Regions from separate parts of the Homo sapiens genome. Here region 2 is linked to region 1. Evidence: fine-mapped QTL for protein levels in blood plasma. Region 1 holds a variant in brackets. A gene starts in the other region. All regions are shown on their reverse strands.

Region 1 (9,745 bases):
AGAGGAGGCAGGGTGGCAGGAGTGGAGACCATGGGCATTTGAGCCACTTCCTCATGTAAAACTTACTTGTGCCTTCAGGATCTGCTTGAGCCCAGTCACATATATACCACTTCTCTTTGATGACGGAATGCTGCTGTGCATGACCCACTTTATGGCTAGACGGGTTGGAAAGCACCCGTTCATGACGGGCAGTTCAGGTTGCATGGTGACTTGATGACCCATAGTCAAATGTTCAGTTTCCACCAAAGCCCAGTAACAGGCCAAGAGCTGTCTTTCAAAAGGAGAGTAGTTATCTGCGGAAGATGGCAGGGCCTTGCCCCAAAATCTGAGAGGTCTGTGCTGTGATTCACCTATGGGGGCCTGCCAGAGACTCCAAACAGCATCCCTATGTGCCACTGACACCTCAAGCACCATTGGATCTCTTGGGTCATATGGCCCAAGTGGCAGAGCAGCTTGCACAGCAGCCTGGACCTGTTGCAGAGCCTTCTCCTGTTCTGGACCCCACCCAAAGCTGGCAGCCTTTCAGGTCACTCGGTAAATGTACCAGAGTAACACACCCAAATGAGGACTGTGTTACCTCCAAAATCCATATAGGCCCACTAAGCATTGTGCCTCTTTCTTGGTTGTAAGAGGGTCCAAATGCAGCAACTTATCCTTCACCTTAGGAATATCTCGACAGGCCCCAAACCACTGGACCCCTAGAAATGTTGTTGATGTAGAAGGTCCCTGAATTTTAGTCGGATTTATTTCCCATCCTCTGGCACACAAACGTCTCACCAATAAGTCCAGTGTGTTTGCTACTTCTTGCTCACTGAATCCAGTCACTGTAATGTCATCAATGTAATGAACCAGTGTGATATCTTGCAGAAGCGAAAAGCGATCAAGGTCTCTCCGAATAAGATTATGACACAAAGCCGGAGAGTTGATATACCCCTGAGGGAGGACAGTAAAGGTATATTGCTGCCTTTGCCAGCTGAAGGCAAATTGCTTCTGGTGGGCCTTATGGACAGGAATGGAGAAAAAGGCATTTGCCAAGACAATGGCTGCATACCAGGTACCAGGAGATGTGTTAATTTGCTCAAGCAATGAAACCACATCTGGTACAGCAGCTGCAACTGGAGTGACCACTTGCTTAAGCTTACGGTAATCCACTGTCATTCCCCAAGATCCATCTGTCTTCTGCACAGGCCAAATGGGAGAGTTGAGTGGGGATGTGGTGGGAATCACCACCCCTGCGTCTTTCAAGTCCTTGATGGTGGCACTAATCTCTGCAGACCCTCCAGGGATGTGATATTGTTTTTGATTTACTCTTTTTGTAGGTAGAGGCAGCTCTAATGGCTTCCATTTGGCCTTCCCCACCATAATAACCCTCACTCTACCTGTCAGGGAGCTAATGTGGGGGTTCTGCCTGCTGCTAAGTATGTCTATACCAATTACGCATTCTGGCACTGGGGAAATGACCACAGGATGAGCCCGGGGACCCACTGGACCCACTGAAAGTCAGACCTGAGCTAAAACTCCATTAATTACCTGACCTCCATAAGCGCCTACTTTAACTGGAGGACCACAATGACGTTTTGGGTCTCCTGGAATCAATGTCATCTTAGAGCCAGTGTCCAGTAGTCCCCAAAATGTCTGATCATTTCCCTTTCCCCAACATAGTTACCCTGGTATAAGGCTGGAGGTCTCCTTGGGGAAGGATGGGAGAAAGATTAACAGCATAGGCCGGGTGCGGTGGCTCACGCCTGTAATCCCAGCACTTTGGGAGGCCGAGGTGGGTGGATCATGAGGTCAGGAGATCGAGACCATCCAGACTAACAAGGTGAAACCCCATCTCTACTAAAAATAGAAAAAATTAGCTGGGTGTGGTGGCAGGCGCCTGTAATCCCAGCTACTTGGGAGGTTGAGGCAGGAGAATGGCGTGAACCCGGGAGGCGGAGCTTGCAGTGAGCCGAGATTGCACCACTGCACTCCAGCCTAGGTGACAGAGCAAGACTCTGTCTCAAAAAAAAAAAAAAAGAAAGAAAGAAAGATTAACAGCATAAATTGTCAGTAGTGTAGTGGAGTCCTTCCTCAAGGGGACCCAGCCTCCCCTTCATTCAAGGGGTTCTGGGTCTGTAAACTGTCTCAAGTCTGGAAATTGATTGAGGGGCTGTGATTCTCTGTTTTTATAATTCATATTAGTCTTTTGTCCATTCGCCCTAGAAGTTTTCTGCTTATATAAATTAAGCAGGATTGCAGTAGGCTTCCTGTCAATTTCACTTTTTAGGAACACTGTGATTAATTAGCCAATGCCAGAGCTCTACACAAGTCAGACTATTCTGATTGCCACTTTGCCTCTGCTGTCCATTATGGTAGCTGTGCCCACCTTGCCTTTGATGGTTGAGTGCCGCCACTTGGCCCCTGCCACCTCAGGATCCAGTTATTCCCATCATCCCATTAAATCATATTTAAATTTTGTAGTTGAGTGACTGTGGTTCCCACTGTTAGATCTGACATACAGAGAAGAGCAATTACAGGGCCCTTCAAAGACGCAGGTGCTGCCCTCAAAAATCTATTTCGCAAGGCATTGGTCAAGGGTATATCTTCTGGACCCTCCCAGCTGGGATGAGTAGGTCTAAAGTGACTAATCCACTCCACCACCTCAATCTCCCTAAGCCTTTGGATCCCTTCCTCTACATTAAGCCAAGGGAGATCAGGCATTTCCAACTTGCTCACAGTGGGCCATCTTTTAATCCATATTTCAGCCAACCAAGCAAATAAACTATTAGAACCTTTTTGAACTCCTGAGCTGTGACATTAAATGCAGAGTCCCTGCTTAGTGGGCCCAAATCAATAAATCCAGCCCGATCCAACTCTATGTTCCTTCCACCATTATCCCACACCCTTAATATCCATTCCCATGCCTGTTCTCCAGATTTCTGTTTATATCAATTAGAGAATTCAAATGCTTATTTTCAAGTGTAGCACACCTCCTTATGGGTCACACTCTCAACCTCACCTCTAGGCGCCCACTGGGACTTTAGTCTAGTTATAGGTTGAGAAACAAACAGGGGTGTTAGGGTTGGCTCCTCAGGAGAATCAACATTATCTTGTCTGGCAACTGCCTCATGGGAGGCCATCACTGTTGCCTCAGGCAGTGCAGGATTTATCTCCTCAGACAAAGGTGGAAAGGCTGATGGCAGCATGGGTTAGGGAGGGAATGTTGCCACTACTGGGGATGGGGAAGCTCTTCCTTCTGGTGAAAAATGTTCATCAGAGTTTACAAACTCAGTGTCCCCAGCTTCATCAGGGTCCTCCCACACATCCCCATTCCAAGTTGCAGGGTCCTATTCTTTTCCAATCAGTGCCCTCACTTTAACAGTAGACACCTGGCGAGGCTGTGCACGTACCTTTCATTGCAGGTCAGTCACTCGCATGGTAAGAGCTTGTGTCTGTTTTTCCACGATTTCAGCTCTTTCTCTAAAGGAGATAAGACTCTCAATGAGGGCAATCTTAGAAGATTTGAGGCTCAGTATCTGCTTCTGAAGCTGAGAGTTAGAATCCCTGAGTTCATCATTTTCTTTCATCACTTTGTCCACCGAACTTTAGGAGCAACCAACCAGCTTCATTAGCTCTTTGGTTCTCCACATGTGGTCAAAGGTATTATGTATAGAGTCACTAAACTCCCTGCCTCTCATGAGCAGTGAATCAAGAGTGTCAAATGCATTTAATTTGCATAGCTCTCTAAATAGTTCATGCCAAGGACTATCGGTGTTCTCCATGCCATTAGAAGTAGAGTCCTTAGAATTTTTGGGTCTAATCATATTAAGCAGGCAACTCCAGAAATCCCAAAACCAACAAAAGAAGTCCATCCTTAATATTCTATTCTTCTAGAACCACTCCTGGTACCAAAATCTGTATTAGGGCTCTCTAGAGGGACAGAACTAATAAGATAGATAGACATATATAAAGGGGAGTTTATGAAGTATTAACTCACGTGATTGCAAGGTCCCGCAATAGGCTATCTGCAAGCTGAGGAGCAAAGAAAGCCAGTCTGAGTCCAAAAACTGAAGAACTTGAAGTCCAATGTACAAGGGCAGAAAGCAGCCAGCACAGGAGAAAGATGTAGGCTGGGAGGCTAGGCCAGTCTAGTCTTTTCGTTTTTGTGTCTGCTTATATTCTAGCCACACTGGCAGCTGATTAGATGGTACCCACCCAGATAAAGGGTGGATATGCCTTCCCCAGCCAAATGACTCAAATGTTAATCTCTTCTGGCCACACTCTAACAGACATACCAAGGATCAATACTTTGTATGCTTCAATCCAATCAAGTTGACACTCAGTATTAAACATCACAGTGGAACTTCCCGAGAGTGGGTCTTCCTCTCCCCAGTCCACTGACTCAATTGTTAATCTCTTCTGGCAACACCCAGAAACACCCAGATACACTCAGAAACAATAATTTATATCCTTCGACCCAGTCAAGTTGACACTTCATATTAACCATCACAACCAGGAACAACTTTGTGTCAATGAATATAAAAAATTAGACAGATGAATTTTTTTTTTCTGTGAGACAGAGTCTTGCTTTGTCACCCAGCCTGGAATGCAGTGACAGGATCTCAGCCCACTGCAATCTCCACCTCCCAGGTTCAAGCAATTCTCTTGCCTCAGCCTCCTGAGTAGCTGGGATTACAGACACCTGCCACCACACCCAGCTAATTTTTGTATTTTTAGTAGAGATGGGGTTTCACCATGTTGGCCAGGCTGGTCTCAAACTCCTAACCTTGTGATCCACCCGCCTCGGCCTCCCAAAGTGCTGGCATTACAGGCATAAGCCACCACACCTGGGTGACAGATAAATTTATAAAAGCATAACTTCCTGTAACTGACTCAAGAAGAAATAAAACTAGTCCCATAACTATTAAAGACATTGAATCAGTAGTTAAATACAATCCTGTAAAGAAAACACCAAGACAGGTAATTTTATGGGTGAATTCCATTTAACTTTCAAAGGATAGATCCTTCCAACTATATACAGAATTTTCCAGTGAATTTTGATAAAAGAAGAACTTATTTTATGAGGCTGGGATAGCCTTGATAACAGTCATTCAGAGAATATAGGAAAGGAAAATTATAGGCCAATCTCATAAACATACATGCAAAATCCTAAATAAAATATAAATTTTAAAAAGTTTTTAAAAACCAATACAGCATGTATCAGTCAGGGTCCCAATAGGCGGGCACACACAGTGGAACAGTTCAAGGAGGGTTTTTATATACAAAGTTGTGGTCAAAATGTGGACAATCACAGTCAGAAACTCCAGAGCCCAGGGCTGGTTAAGGTGGAGGGGCCACACCAGTTCTAGAATGCTGGCAATGGCAGGAGTGGACCCCGGAGCCTCAGAAGGAGAAAGTCTTTTACATCTTGAGAGCAGCGCTGACCTTCAGTCCCAGGATGCAGCCAACCTGAGGGTATTTGTTTGCTACGGGGACCATAATAAACTGCCACAGATTGGGTGCCTTCGACAAGAGAAGCTTATCACCTTGCAGTTCTGGAAGCCAGAAGTCCAAAACCCAGGGGGCAGCAGGCTTGGCTCCCTTGGAGTCCAGCAGGGGGCACCTGCTCTAGGCCTCTGGCCCTGGTTTGTGGACGGCCATCTTCTCTCCAGGTGTCTCCCATCGCCCTCCTACTGTACATGTCTGCGTCCTGTAAAAAGAAGCCATTCAAAACCAAAGTTGTTGGAACTTTAAATTATTTTGCATCTTCAAGGAACATGATTATAGGACCTGAGTTGCGTATGACGGTCAGCTGTAGCTTAGGCAGCTGTAACCTTTGTTCCTCTGATTATAGATTAGCTTTTTCTTTACCTACATTGTTCTGTAAAATGTTATAAAAGACTACAGGACACCAGGGAAGACCCCTTCCCTCTTCATGTTGATCTTCACTGTAGATTTGCTCCCCTCTGACTTCTCTTACACAGAGACCTCACTGGCCACCACGTTGTCTAAGACAGAACGTTCAATAGGCTCTTTCAAATTGGAAAAGGAAAAGAAAACAAGCTGTGATTAATCAAATTGCTGTGACTCATAAACCAGCCTTGCATGGGAAGCACTGTAACCCTGTTCAATTTGTTTATTTTCTGCCTGTATAAGCAAGACCTTCACTTTTTGGCTTTGGGGTACTGGCTCTAATCCTCTGGAGTCTGTGTGTCCTGAGTGGCTATTTTCAGCTTCGTGCCTGCATATGCTCTTTTAAACTGGATTCTGATCCTTTTGATTATTTCAGGTGGATAGTCCAAATTTTCTCTTCTCATTAGGACACCAGTCATATTGAGTTAGTGCCCATCCTAATAACCTAATTTGAACTTGATTGCCTTTTTAAACATTCTATCTCCAAATACAGTCACATGCTGGGCTATTAGGGGTTAGGACTTCAACATATGAATTAATTAATTTATTAAAACAGGATCCTGCTCTGTACCCAGGCTGGAGTGCAGTGGCGTGATCATGGCTCACTGCAACCTCCACCTCCTGGTGGAGGTGATCCTTCCCCTTCAGCCTCCTGAGTAGCTGAGACTACAGGTGCATGCCACCATGCCCGGCTAATTTTTTTGTAGAGACTGGGTTTCATCCTGTTGCCCAGGCTGGTCTTGAATTCCCACCTGGGCCTCCCAAAGTGCTGGGATGACAGGTGTGAGCCACTGCGCCCAGTCATCATATGAATTCTAGAAGGACATAATTCCACCTGAAACACTGAGGTGACTGACCCCAAAGAAAGGGAGCCAGGAAAATACATGCCCAGTCTCTCTCCCCTGCCTCTGATCTCCCAATAGCCCAACAAGAAACAAGAGAGTGCACAGCCCATTGCAGACCAGAGAGGCCAGCCTCCCGCGGCAGAGCACGACGGGAACAAGCAGGGCACAAGTGGGAGGGGCAAAGGGAAGACCCCAGCTCACACTTCAGCTCAATACCGTCCACTCGAGGAATACAAGGCCAACCTGAGTTAGAAAACCTATCATGTGCCGGGCGCAGTGACTCACGCCTGTAATCCCAGCACTTTGGGTGGCCGAGTTGGGCGGATCATTTGAAGTCAGGAGTTCAAGACCAGCCTGGGCAACGTGGTGAAACCCCATCTCTACTAAAAATACAAAAATTAGCCGGGCGTGGTGGCAGGCACCTGTAATCCCAGCTACTCGGGAGGATGAGGCAGAAGAATCACTTGAGCCTGGGAGGCAGAGGTTGTGGTAAGCCAAGATCGCGCCACTGCACTCCAGGCTGGGTGGCAGAGTGAGACCCTGTCTCAGAAAGAAAGAAAAAAAATGAAGAAAAGAAAGAAAGAGAGAGAGAGAGAGAAAGAAGAAAGAAAGAAGAAGAAAAAAGAAAAAAGAGAGAAAAAGAGAGAGAGAAAGAAGAAGAAAGGAAGGAAGAAAAGGAAGGAAAGAAGGAAGAAGGGAGGGAGGAAGGAAGGAAGAAGGGAGGGAGGGAGGGAGGGAGGAAGGAAACCTATCATGGAAGTCATCATGTTAGTGAAGCCAAAGGGAAAATGTGTACATTTATCTCAACAGAGGCTGAGGAAGCATGTGAAAATGCTCACCGCTCATGGCGGAAGGGTCAGGGACGGCTCACATCGGATGTGGGTGAAGCGGGGCTGAAGCCATGAGGTTCAGAGCCCCAGAACCAGCTGCTGGAGGCCCCCACACTCAGGAGGAAGAGCGGCTCCACTCTCAGGATCCTGGGGCACAGGTGCCAGACTCAGTCCCCCAGCCACTGCCCAGGCTGCACCAACACTGTGGCAGGGGCAGGGGTCTTCAGTGGCAAGTTCGTTCCGTGAGCTCGAAGGCTCTGAGGCCCATGCACAGCAGCAGGGGCCGTGGGGAGAAGGGCCTGGCCATGTCTCTCTTCCCTCTTTGCTCAGAACCCGGCTTTGCTTGGGGCGGTAACTGTGTGGCCCCAATGCCCCATTTCCTGCCCTCCCAGCCTCCGTACAGCCTGGGGCGGCGCCAATCTGCTGGGGAAGGGGCTCCCGACGAAAGGGAACAGCTGTAACTGCAAACCACTGCCTCCCCGAGACCAGGACGCCAGGAAGGAGGTGGGGCGCAGGAGAGAAGGTCCTGGGTGCCTCGAAGCAGGGAGGAGGCCTGACCCCCACCAGCCACACTCCCGCCCTCTCTGCCCTCTGGCCCCACCTCCCCCTGTCTCCTGTCCTCCCTGGCTGGAGGGAGGGTACGGCCTCTGCCTGCCCAGCAGTGACCCTCTAACTGGGCCCCATCTAGCACATGGGCCCCTCCCTCCCTCAGCCCCCACAGAGGCAGCCTGTGGCCTCCTCCCTCCCGGGAAGTGCAGCCCAGGCTCAGGCAGGCGGGCTGCCATCTGGAAGACCAACGACGGCCTGCGGGTGTTCCCGTGGGGCCGCTCTTTCTTCTTCAGGTTCAATACTCCGTGCACCACGCGGATCGGACCCCTCCACGCCTGGGGGCCTGGACTTGGTTTCCACTTCCTGCCCTGGGACAACCCAGGTGCTGAGCCCCGGCCTGGGGCTGGCCTGGGAGGGGGCTGGACTCTGCTGGGGCCTGGAGAGGCCCAGACCTCATCCCCTGACAACTCTCTGGGCCGTGGGGCCAGACCCCGCTGTGGGGCCACAGGCTCCGTCTCCACTGAGGACTGTGTGCGCTCCAGAACGGCAGCCTGAGGCCTGCTGCGCATAGACCTGGGCCCCAGTCATGGCCTGGAGGGGAAGGCGGGGCCGCAGGCAGGGGCCAGGCAGCGTGGGCCGGGTTCTTGGAAATATCTTTATTGTCAGCAAGGCAGGGAATGGTGGGAACCAGGGTGTCCCGCTGGAGGGTCAGGAGGGAGCCACAAGCCGCCTGGGAGGCCGTATC[C/T]GGTCGTTGATCCAGTCCACATAGTTGGCCACGCGGGTGTAGACCCCCGGCTTGTGGAGCCGCCCGCAGCCGTCACCCCAGCTGATGATGCCGTAGAGGTAAGCCACGCCGTTCTTCTCGCAGGCCAGGGGCCCCCCTGAGTCCCCCTGGGCAGAGACGTTGGTCAGAGCCACCCTCCCAGGGGCCTGGTTCAGGGACCCCCCTCTCCCCCAAGTGGCAGCTTGGGGACAGAGGACAAAGGCATTTCTGAGCAAGGGAGCTGATCCACTCTCCTGAACCTCATGAAAAGGTGTCTCATTCCCTGGGGGCAGCACTGGCTGGGCCAGGGCATCCAACCACGTTATTCCCCTTCCTGAAGCCACGGTCCCCCTCTCCCCACCAGCATGAACCCTGTGTGGACCACACAGCCACCCTGTGTCCCAGCACCTCCTGAAATGACTTCTTCACTCCCTGGAAAACTCCTACGCATCACTCAGGACCAGTGCAAACACTCCCTCCTCCAGGAAACCATCCTGACTTCCCTTATCGAGGTCCAGTGACAAGCCCTACCCACTCTACCACTCCTGGGCTTTGTGGCCTTGGAAGAGTGAATTGACTGCCTGGGGCTCAGTCTCCCCAGCTATAAAATGGGGCATAAGAGAGCCGTCGCATGCCAGGGTTGCCGTGCCGCCTGAGCACACAGGCCTGCAGAGCCCAGGACGTGGTTGGGCTGTTGGGCTTATTGAAGGTTGAAGAACTTATTGAAGGTTGAAGAGCTGGCTTGAGAGAACTCGGGGCAAAGGGGCCTTTGGTGCCTAGTGTCACACGGAAAGCACTGCCTTGGGCTGGACAGCCAGGAACTGTCCGGGCTCTGTGGGACCCCAGGCCCCTCTCAGAGCCTG
Region 2 (9,844 bases), not on the chromosome of region 1:
GCCACTGTTGTTGTTGGGTGGACTCTAGGGGCCTCTCCAGCTCTGCAGCTCTAAGAGGGAGGGTGGGGAAGCTTCTGCTTGTCCTCAGACCTCGGCTCCCATCTCCCTGTCTTGGTTCCCTCCTCCCCGGTTGGCAGGTGCTGGAGAGGCCTCCTGGAGCACGTCCTCCCATGTCCTCCCGCTCCCTGCAGCACACACCACAGCCAAGTGCGTCTATCTGTGGCTGTTCATGGCTGCACGGCCTGCCAGGGAGTGTGTACTTTCCTGCACTATAAAAAGCAGAGGCCGGGCAGCCTGTAAGGACATCACATGCTCCCCTGGGGCTGTGAAGTGGCCAGCGGTGGAGAAAACAGTTTCTCACGGCATTTCTCATGTTCAAAGCTCAGGACCAGAAAGCTCCCAGCACGTCATGTTGCCTCCTTTCCTAGAAACTAGGTGGGGTAGAAGAGTCAGGAACACCTCACAGAGGGGGGCGGCTTCCTCCCTCCCTCCCAAGCAGGGATGAGTCGGCCCAAGGGTGCCTGAAGCACGCGGAGGGTCCAGAGAAGATAATCTGGCTTTCTGGGGCTGGAAGAGTGTGGCCCGGGTATTGGCCCCGCGAGGCCCGGGCTAACAGTGGGGACCACACCTGCACCGGTGGAGAAGCCATGGAGGGCTGGGTGGTGGGCGGTGGGTCCACCTGCGAGGTCCAGAAGCCCCAGGGCGGCTCAGAGGCTCCAGCCCCAGGCCGGGGGGGCCACTCCCAGCGGCACAGGCAGCTTCGCTTCCCAGGAGGGCCCCGGGGAAGCAACACCGTTTTTTCCTGCCCAAGCTGGACCCCCTCCAGGACACCAAGGCTGTCAGATGCGGGGGGCCAAAGTCAGCGCTTCCTATTCCGTGAAGGTCCAGGTTGGCCACAGACAGGACTGGACAGACCCGGCGGTCAGGTGGTCCCAGTGATAAGGAGTGGGGTGAGGGCATCCCCGCCAGGTGCAGCCGCGGGCATTAGTACCATTCCTCTTCCTTCCACACCCTCAGAAAGGCACCAGAGAACAGTGAAACAAGATAAACACCCCACAAAAAACTAGGGGGAAGGTGCAATTCCTCCCGTTAGTATCCACGTGCAGAAAAGCCCCGCTCCTCCACAGTCAGGGAGACCCGGGACCATTATGACCCCCGCGCAAAGGCGCCTATGGCGGGGGCTGAGCCAGAGCCAGACGCCAGGGCTGCCCCCGAAAACCCGGGTCTTTCCGCCCCTGCGCCGCCACCGCCAACCGGCCCCTCCCACGGCGCTCTCCGTCCGTCCCGGCCCAGGTGTCTGCCATCCCCGCCCTGGCCACCAGGCTGAAGCCACGAGGATGGGGCGGGGCAGCGCTGGGTCCCCCGGCCCGGCCACCTACCTCCGTCCCGCCGGCCGCTCCTCCCGCGCCGCCCCTAGAGCATCTCCCGCCGGCCAAGCCTCCTCCCGGCCAGGTCCGGGGCGATGCACAGACTCGGTGAAGGAAACAGAGCAGGGGAAAAGGTCTTCCGGAGGACGGCAGTGCAGAAGAGGAGGGTGGGGGGCGGTACGAGCAGCCACAGGTCCCCCCCACCCACAGCACCTCCGTCTCCCCGGCGCGGTCTCCGAGGTCTCTGCGACCAGAAGCGGAAGCGCGGTTTCTCGAAAGTAAAGGAAGAGAGGGAGAAAGTGGGACAGACGCGCAAGGAGCGAAGCCCAGCCAGATGTGAGCAGCGAGGAGCCTCCAACACCCCCAGCGCTTTTCGTCCAAACAGCAGCCGCGGAGGATTAACCGTGTGTGCCCCGCGCCGCGCCTCAGGGAAATCCAGCGGCCGCCTCCTCCCGGCCCCCTGGGGAGCCCGCCAGGCTGAGAGTGGGGGTGGGGCAGATTCCGTGAGTCTGGAGGTCCGTCCAGAGGCGGAGGGGCTGCGAGCCCCGGACGAGAATGCCCCCCGCAGGATGGGGGTGCCCAGCAAGGCTGAGCGCTCCTAGTCACTTGGTAGCAGAGGGATGAGCCCCAAGGCCTCCGGGATCCGCTGTGGCCAACCCTGAGGGGTCAGGTCTCCAAACAGTGGCAGACCTGAGACGCCCTGTGCATTATCGGGGACTCAGACAGGTTTGGGGGAATCTGTGAACCCCCTATAACAAAATGCCAAACTGTGTGTGTGTGTGTGTGTGTGTGTGTGTGTGTGCGCGCGCGCGCATCACCTTTGGAAGGTGATGGTCCACTGTTTTGTTCAGAGTCTTGAGAGCTCTGTGATCTAAAGGTTAGGAAGGAGCCCCTGCCGGGAAGATTTCCATTTTCTAGAGAACAGCACGAGTACAGTGGTGAGCCCAGGATGGCTGGAAGCACTCCTCAGTCTCTATCAGGCCTCTCATTCCTTGATATGAAAACCTGACATTTTCTCAGTCATACACAAATATTTTTTCTGAACAAGGCCCGTAGGCTGCCCTCCCATCCTGATCCCTGATCCAGGCTGCTCCAGAGCCGGCCCTGGTTGGGACCCAGTCTCCATCCCTAGACTCTGCGTCAGCCCAGCTTGCTCTGGAAACTTACCATATCACTAGCAGGGGAAGGATTTGGCCAGAGAAGCAGAAGCCAGCTCTGATGATAACAGCATTCCCCCTTTTTTTGCTTCTTTTTTCCCCCCTCTGCCCTGTTCTCTCCGAGCTGCCCCTCACCTCGATGTTGCAGCTGGATTTTTTTGTTTTGTTATCCCTCCTGTGAGGGTCTGTCTCTGGACAAACAGGAGATGCGAAAATGGGGATGCTGGTTGGGACATTCAGAGCAAAACTAAGAGGCCTCACCTTTCCCTGCCTGGAGTGTCCTCCCATCCGCCGCACCAACAACTGGACAGATGAAAAGAATCAAAAAGGAGAGGAAGAAGAGGGTGCAAGCACAATGCCCACTGCCTTGCCCCAGGCTGGGCGAGGCCAGCACTCAGGTAGAGCTGAGGACAAATGGAGATGAGAACAGAAGGGGAGGCTTCCGGGCAGGCGAGGCGCCCAAAAGCCACTCCACAGAGGCCCTGACTGCATGCGTCAACCCCTCCTGTGAGTACAGGGAGAAAGGCTGCCAGGCCTCCAGCACCCAGGGGGAACTCAGAGGACACGATGGGGATATGAAGTCAACACTACTTAACCAACTAGAGATGCAGCCTCCGCTAGGCTTAGAAGATCAGGGGTTGCTTGTGTTCTTGGCATACGTGTCTGAGGCTTGGCAAAACCTACATCCCTGGTTGCTTATTGATACAGGAAAAGCCAGAGATAAGCTTGTCTCCATTCCTGTAAGTGACATGAGGAAGTTTCCCAGTCACCAGGAGCAAGGCTTAGCACACGGACTGACCTTTCCTTAGTTACTCTGTCCTCAAATAGCCCTTGGTGCAGGGATACCAGAGAAAACAACAGCATTTTTTGCAGCCCTTATGAGACCTTCGTCCATACTTCAGAGAATCTGGGACTTTCTAGAACTCTTACGAGCTAGGAAATCCCTCAGTGCAATGAGAAGGCTTCTTGTTGCCCTGCCTGGGAGCCTCAGACTCAGGAAAGTCGTGGGCAGATACCAGAATTCACAAAGCGGGACACACAGCTTGAAAGAGAAAGAGATGCAGATGATGGGCTGGGTGTGGTGGCTCACACCTTTAATCCCAGCACTTTGGGAGGCTGAGGCGGGAGGATCACTTGAGCCCAGGAGTTTAAAACCAGCCTGGGCAACATAGTGAGACCTTGTCTCTACAAAATATAAAACAATTAGCTGGGCTTGGCAGCACACACCTGTAATCCCAGCTACTCAGGAGGCTGAGGTGAGAGGATCCCTTGAGCCCAGGAGGTCAAGGCTGCAGTGAGCCCTAATCATGGCATTGCATTCCAGCCTGGGCAACAGAGCAAGACCCCCATCTCAAAAAAAAAAAAAAAAGTTGTGGATGATGGAATATTTATTCTTTCTCTTTACCCCATCCAAGATGGCTTTGGTGTTGAAGAACTGGAAAACAGTTATCTTTAACACAATTCCAAGACAGAACTCAGAGGCCCAATATAGTGCAAAGTTCTAGAAAGACAGCTGAAGGCTGGTCATCTCTTCCAGGTGCACCTGGCTCATCCTACTAGGAGGTCTTGTCCCGGCTCTGTCCTACCTTGAGGCAGCCTGGGGATGCTACCAAACTTCAGTGGGCCTTAGCTTCCTTATCTACAAAGCAGAGATAGGTCCAGGGTCTCTTATCTGGAACCAAGGAGGTCAGATATGTTCAGAGTCAGATGCAAATATCCCACAAAGCATCTTACCCAGTGGGCTTCGGGCAGCGCCCCTTCGTTAAACACTTGAATATTCGGCAGTGGGATGAAGGCATCCATAGTCTCAGGATAGTTCAAGCCACATTGTTCTGTCAAATTTGTGTGTGCCAACTTTAGGGAAAAACTAAGGTTTCAGATTTTTTGCATTTCAGGGATTTTGGAGAAGTGATTGTGAACCTGTAGCTTCTCACATGATTAATAAAAAGGTTGGTGGAACAGACACATTGTTCATTGCAACTACCATTATTACAAGTATAATCTTCCTTCCATCCTCTTGGGAAGAGGAGGGAAGGAGGAGATTAGAAAAGGGATTACTCATTTTCCTTGAGGCAGAAACTGGGGATAGGGAGGAGTGGTATCAAACGGTAACAAAGAGAGCCTGGGGTTTCCCAAGATCTTGTGTGAGACCCAAGGCTCGGAGGCATGGGAACTTCCAAAGAATAGGAGTTGAGGTCTGAGCACATGTCTTAGGTGCCACCATCATGGCTCACAACTCAAGGCAGCAGGCAATGGGCAAAGACTCACAAGGCCAGCTCCCAGAGAATACAAGCTTGTCCTCAATAAAGTGAAAAAAAAAATCCAAAATAGAGAGCATGCCAGGTTCCTAATGCTCTTTGTCATCAACTTCACTTCTGCTTTGTAATTTTAAGTAGGAAAGATGGAAACTTTGGCAAGCAAGGGATGTCCTTGCAGAGTGGCTGATTTTCTTCCTTCTCAGCCTTAGGTGCCCCCAAGCAACAAGAGGCAGAGTGTTTTCCCTTTGGCAAAATCCTTTCCTGTTGGGCAACAACAACAGAAATCAAAAATAAAAATCAGCCACAGTGCCTGGGGGATTTCATCAGCCCTGAGATTATGGGTCAGAAGTCAAAGCCAACTTCCAGAAAGACTGAGTCCCCTCCCCAAGGTCTCTCTCTTAGCCCCCACAAACCCATCCTAAAACTCCCTAGGAGCTCACATCTACACAAGGTGTCTGGGTCAAAACCCCTAAAGGCTTCCTGAATATTCCCAAATCATCCCATATTCTTAGTCAAGGGTAGATCCTAGAATGGGAAGAAATATTTCCTGGAACCCCTGGCAGGGAAGGCAGCACGTTCTGTGCCCTCCCTGATTTGGTAATTCTTTCTCTCTCCCTGGGCCTGTCACCACCACTCGCTGGGTCTGTTTACTTATTGCTGGAAAAAGCAATGTGATCTCAGTTAAAGTCTGCAAGACACTCGGTTCCAGATAAGCACAGCATGTCATTAGCAGCACTGTGAGTTTTCCCACCGCGGCCCTAACATCCCGCCTTTCCCAGCTATTTTGGGTCGGGCTGCCCAGTCATCCCACAAGGGCAGAGATTGGTATTGCAAACTTTGAATTCTGTTCCCAAGGGTAGCGACCGGCCGGCTCCGATGGTGACGTCCCACTGCCAAGGGGTGGGAGTGGGGAGAGTCTCCACAGAGCTTCGGAGAAGCTGCTAAGATGGAAAAGTGGAAACTTGGCAGACAGATCCAGCCTCCCTGGCCACTGGCCCATGCTCGTGGCTCCTGGATGGCGCTGCCACGTTCTGAGCAGCTTGGGACAGGTGGAGATCAGGACTGGCAGCTGCAAGGACACACCAGGTGAATAGGTTTCTTTATGGTCCTCACACCTGCAGAAAACCAGGAGGGTAAGGGCGTTCCCTCTTCCAGGAAGCCATGCCTTTCCACAGAAGTCTCCCCTGAGGCCATGTACACGTGTGCCTTGCAACTCTATCAAGCCATTTAATTTCCCTATGCCTCAGTTTCCTCACCTCTGAATATTTACTCTCCTGTTTTGGCAATGAATGTTTTCAGTTACATGGAGACAGGCATATACTGATCGACTAGGCAATATTTTACTTGATAAATAAGATGGGAGGGCCCCCTGGTGGACTCCCCAGTTCCAAGCACTTAACTATGAAATGAGTGAGTAAATGCATGTCAACATATGAATGAATGATTCAATAAAGAATGTCTTGTCCTTTATGCAGAGCCACAGAAACTAAAGAGAATTTCCAAAAGGAGTCTATGGTGAAGTCTCTGAGGATGCAAAGAAGACAAGGAGAATGAAAATCCAATGAAAGCCTGATTGTATTTGTTGACCTTAAGGAAAGTGATTTTATGGTACAGCCTCTCTGGAAGGGAGGGTGTGTTCGCTCACAGAATGCAAATACCCTTTGACCCCCTAATCTTTCTTCTAGGAGTTTCTCCTACAGATAAACTTAGAAGGGTGCTCAAATAAGTAAGTTCAAGGATATCCTCTGAAGCATTGCCGTAGTATAAAAAAAGCACAGATACCCTCAAAGGACATCATTAGGGGCCTGGTAAAATAAATTCCACACAGTGGAACACCGTGTAGCTCTTTAGAGAATAAACAGCTCTCTATATGTGATCTGGAACAATCTCCAAGCTATATTGTGAAGTGAAAATTACAAACCCTTACTGAAAAGCACTAAAGAAAATCCAAAGAAATGGAAAAGCAAAGCGTGGTCTTAGATAGAAGACTCAATATCATTAAAAAAAAAAAAAAACTCAGTTCTCGCTCAATTAAGCTATAGATTCCAAGCAATTCCATTCAAAATCCCAGAAGGTTGAAGGTGGGTGAGGTAGGAGGGGACTTGTCCTACATCATAGGAAGGCTTATTATAAAGACATAATAATGAAGATACTGGTATTGGAACAGATGTGATCAAGTATATTAGTTCAACATGATAGAAGGCCCACCCGACAAAGACCCATGTGTGTATGAAAACTTGATCTATGACAAAATTGGCATTGCACGTATATCAATGGGGATGGGATGGATCAATTCCTAAAAACACACAAGATGATGGGGAATCCACAGAAAAAGAAACGTAAACAGCCAAAAAGTGTAAGAAAAGATATACAACCTCACAGTAATCAGGCAAGGAGAAGACACTGATTACCATCAGATTGGCAAAATTAAGCCATCTGATGATGTCTGTGGAGCTGTTACTGGAAAGGGTCCCAAACCAGACCCCAAGAGAGGGTTCTTTGATCTTGAGCAAGAAAGAATTTGGGATAAGTCCACAGGGTAAAATACAAGCAAGTTTATCAAGAGAGTAAAGGAGGCCGGACGCAGTGGCTCATGCCTGTAATGCCAACACTTCAGAAGGCCGAGACAGGCAGACCACCTGAGATCAGTTCAAGACCACCCTGGCCAACATGGTGAACCCCCATCTCTACTAAAAATATAATTACCCCTATTTACCCCTATTCCTGCCTAACCTCCCAGGAATACAGCCCAGCAGGTCTCAGCCTTATTTTACCCAGCCCCTGTTCAAGTAGCATGCCTGTAATCCCAGCTACTCAGAAGGCTGTGGCATGAGAATCACTTGAACGTGGGAGATGGAGGTTGCAGAGAGCCAAGATTGCGCCATTGCACTCCAACCTGGGCAATAGAGCAACACTGTGCCAAAAAAAAAAAAAAAAAAAAGAAAGAAAAGAAAAGAAAAATGGCTATTCCATAGGCAGAGCACCCCCAAAGGCTGCTGGTTGGCTATTTTTATGGTTATGTCTTGATCATATGCTAAACAAGGGGTGGATTATTCATGAGCTTTCTGGGAAAGGGGCAAGAATTTCTTGTAATTGAGGGTTTCTCCCCGTCATAGGCCATACAGGGTAACTTCCAGACGTTCCCATGGCCTTTGTAAACTGCCACGGTGCTGGTGGGAGTGTTTTTTTAGCATGCTAATGTATTATAATTAGCATATAATGAGCAGTTGGGACAACTAGAGGTCACTTTTGTTGCCATCTTGGTTTTGGCAGGTTTTGGCCAGCCTTTATACTGCATCCTGTTATATGAGCAGGGTCATTGTGGCCTGTATCTTGTGACCTCCTATCTCATCTCAGATCCCGGGAGGTTAAAATGCCTTAACCTCCCAGGAATGTGGCCCAGCAGGTCTCAGCATCATTTTACCCAGCCCCTATTCAAGTTAAAGTTGCTCTGCTTCCAATGCCTCTGACATATTTCCCCCCTCCTTTTTACAAGAGGACCACTAATCCTAAGGGTTGTAGAGGTAGGAAGATTCCCCTTCTGTAGCTTCTTCAGGCTAAATAGGAGTAATGATATTCTCATCTAACTATTAAGGTCTTTTGTATTCAGGGTAGAGAGGAACTCAGTCAGAAAGCATCAGCATACTGACGGCCATTCATAACTCTGAGTTCCAACAAAAGGTGATATCTGGAAGACTGGCAAATGTTCAATTTAAGAAAACGGCGAGTAAGCTTATTCTGCATTCCTACACAACGAGTACAACAGGAATATATTCCACAATAGTAAAGCAAAATAAGTAAAATTATCTGATATGGTTTGCATCTGTGTCCCCACCAAATCTCATGTCCGATTATAGTCCCCAAAGTTGGAGGTAGGGCCTGATGGGAGGTGACTGGATCACTGGGGCAGTTTCTCATGAATGGTTTGGCCCCATCCCCCTTGGTCATGATAGTGGGTGAGTTCTCGTGAGATCTGGTTGTTTAAAAGTGTATGGTACCTCCTCGCTCTCTCTCTTTCTCCTGCTCCTGTCATGTAAGAGGCCTCTCCCCCTTTGCCTTAGGCCATGACTAAAAGCTCCCTGAGGCCTCCCCAGAAGCAGATGCTGCCATGCTTCCTGTACAGCCTGCAGAACCGTGAGCCATTAAATCTTGTTGCTTTATAAGTTACCCAGTCTTGGGTATTTCTCTATAGCAGTGTGAGAATGGATTAATACTTTATCCCAAATAAATTAAATAAGGCATTCCATCAACTGGGCAACTGTTGGAACTAAGCTGATATGGGGTTGCTAACAGATTCCAATATGTGCCCTGAATTAGAATACTGATCCAGATATTTCTTATGTTACCCATCCCTATTATTTGTTCTGAGCCATGGCCAGAGATCACTGGTTGGTTCACAGAAATAAGCAGGGTCAGTCTAGACTGCAGAAAAAAAAAAAAAAAACAATGAATGAGACTAGAATCTAATAACAGGTGTACCATAGTTTTTGAAACCTAATTTTTCTCTCTCCAGTCCCCATTTTTATTAAAAACAAATAATGGTAGGACTTATTTGTTTGAAAAATAAACCTTAGTCTTATTATACTTGGCATGATCATTTGCATGAAGTGCAGTAAGAATAATTATTCACCATATAGGCTCTTTTTACAAAAAAATGGCTTTGATGGAATCTTGTTCCATAAGGAATCTTATATTTGACTTTTTAAAGCCTTGCCCAGCCATGGGTTTATGCCTTCAAATACCTGTATGAGTTAGGTAAATTTCTCTCGTCTCAAAGTCCCAATATAACTTAGGGCTCCTGAACCTGTCACAAAGTGACATTCTTTACTTACCACATGGCAGGAACCCTGTACAGGGACTGCATAGACAAGGTATAAAGCCAGTTTTTCCAAGGGCCTTTTATTAGCTCTATAAGTCAACTTTGATTCCTTAAGGCAGTTTTTTTTATATTTGAAAGCACGCCATTCCATTCAAAGCCTTAGTAAAACCCAATTTCTCCAATTGTGTCCTGTTACAAAAGAAAACAGATTCTTACTGCACTTATGCAAATAACTATTAATAT

Alleles and levels. Alleles are on the strand shown, and positions count from the first base shown. The strength of an association depends on the size of the effect and on how common the allele is.
For the plasma level of the protein whose gene starts at base 1,705 in region 2, allele T in region 1 goes with a higher level than allele C (moderate association).

What was found. PIP is the chance, under the fine-mapping model, that this variant and not a neighbour inherited with it causes the effect. Protein levels are from antibody-based Olink assays in UK Biobank. Linkage for the fine-mapping came from a reference panel and not from the study's own genotypes, which makes the PIPs less certain.
Region 2: it holds the start of C1QTNF1, and the variant in region 1 is fine-mapped to the plasma level of the C1QTNF1 protein (UK Biobank, PIP above 0.99).

The regions. Positions count from the first base shown.
Region 1 is chr4:3,448,502-3,458,246 of GRCh38, reverse strand. It overlaps HGFAC (HGF activator), which reads right to left. Exons shown (of 14, transcript NM_001528.4): 14 at 8,761-9,010. The coding sequence ends at 8,828. Among named protein-coding and RNA genes, the nearest start is that of DOK7, 9.9 kb to the left of the region's middle. RefSeq lists an enhancer at 8,389-9,192. The variant C/T (reference allele first, on the strand shown) is at 8,865.
Region 2 is chr17:79,016,030-79,025,873 of GRCh38, reverse strand. C1QTNF1 (C1q and TNF related 1) reads right to left here and starts at 1,705. Exons shown (of 4, transcript NM_030968.5): 1 at 1,380-1,705. It overlaps C1QTNF1-AS1 (C1QTNF1 antisense RNA 1), which reads left to right. Exons shown (of 3, transcript NR_040019.1): 2 at 5,638-5,868; 3 at 6,258-6,665. RefSeq lists a silencer at 1,284-1,373.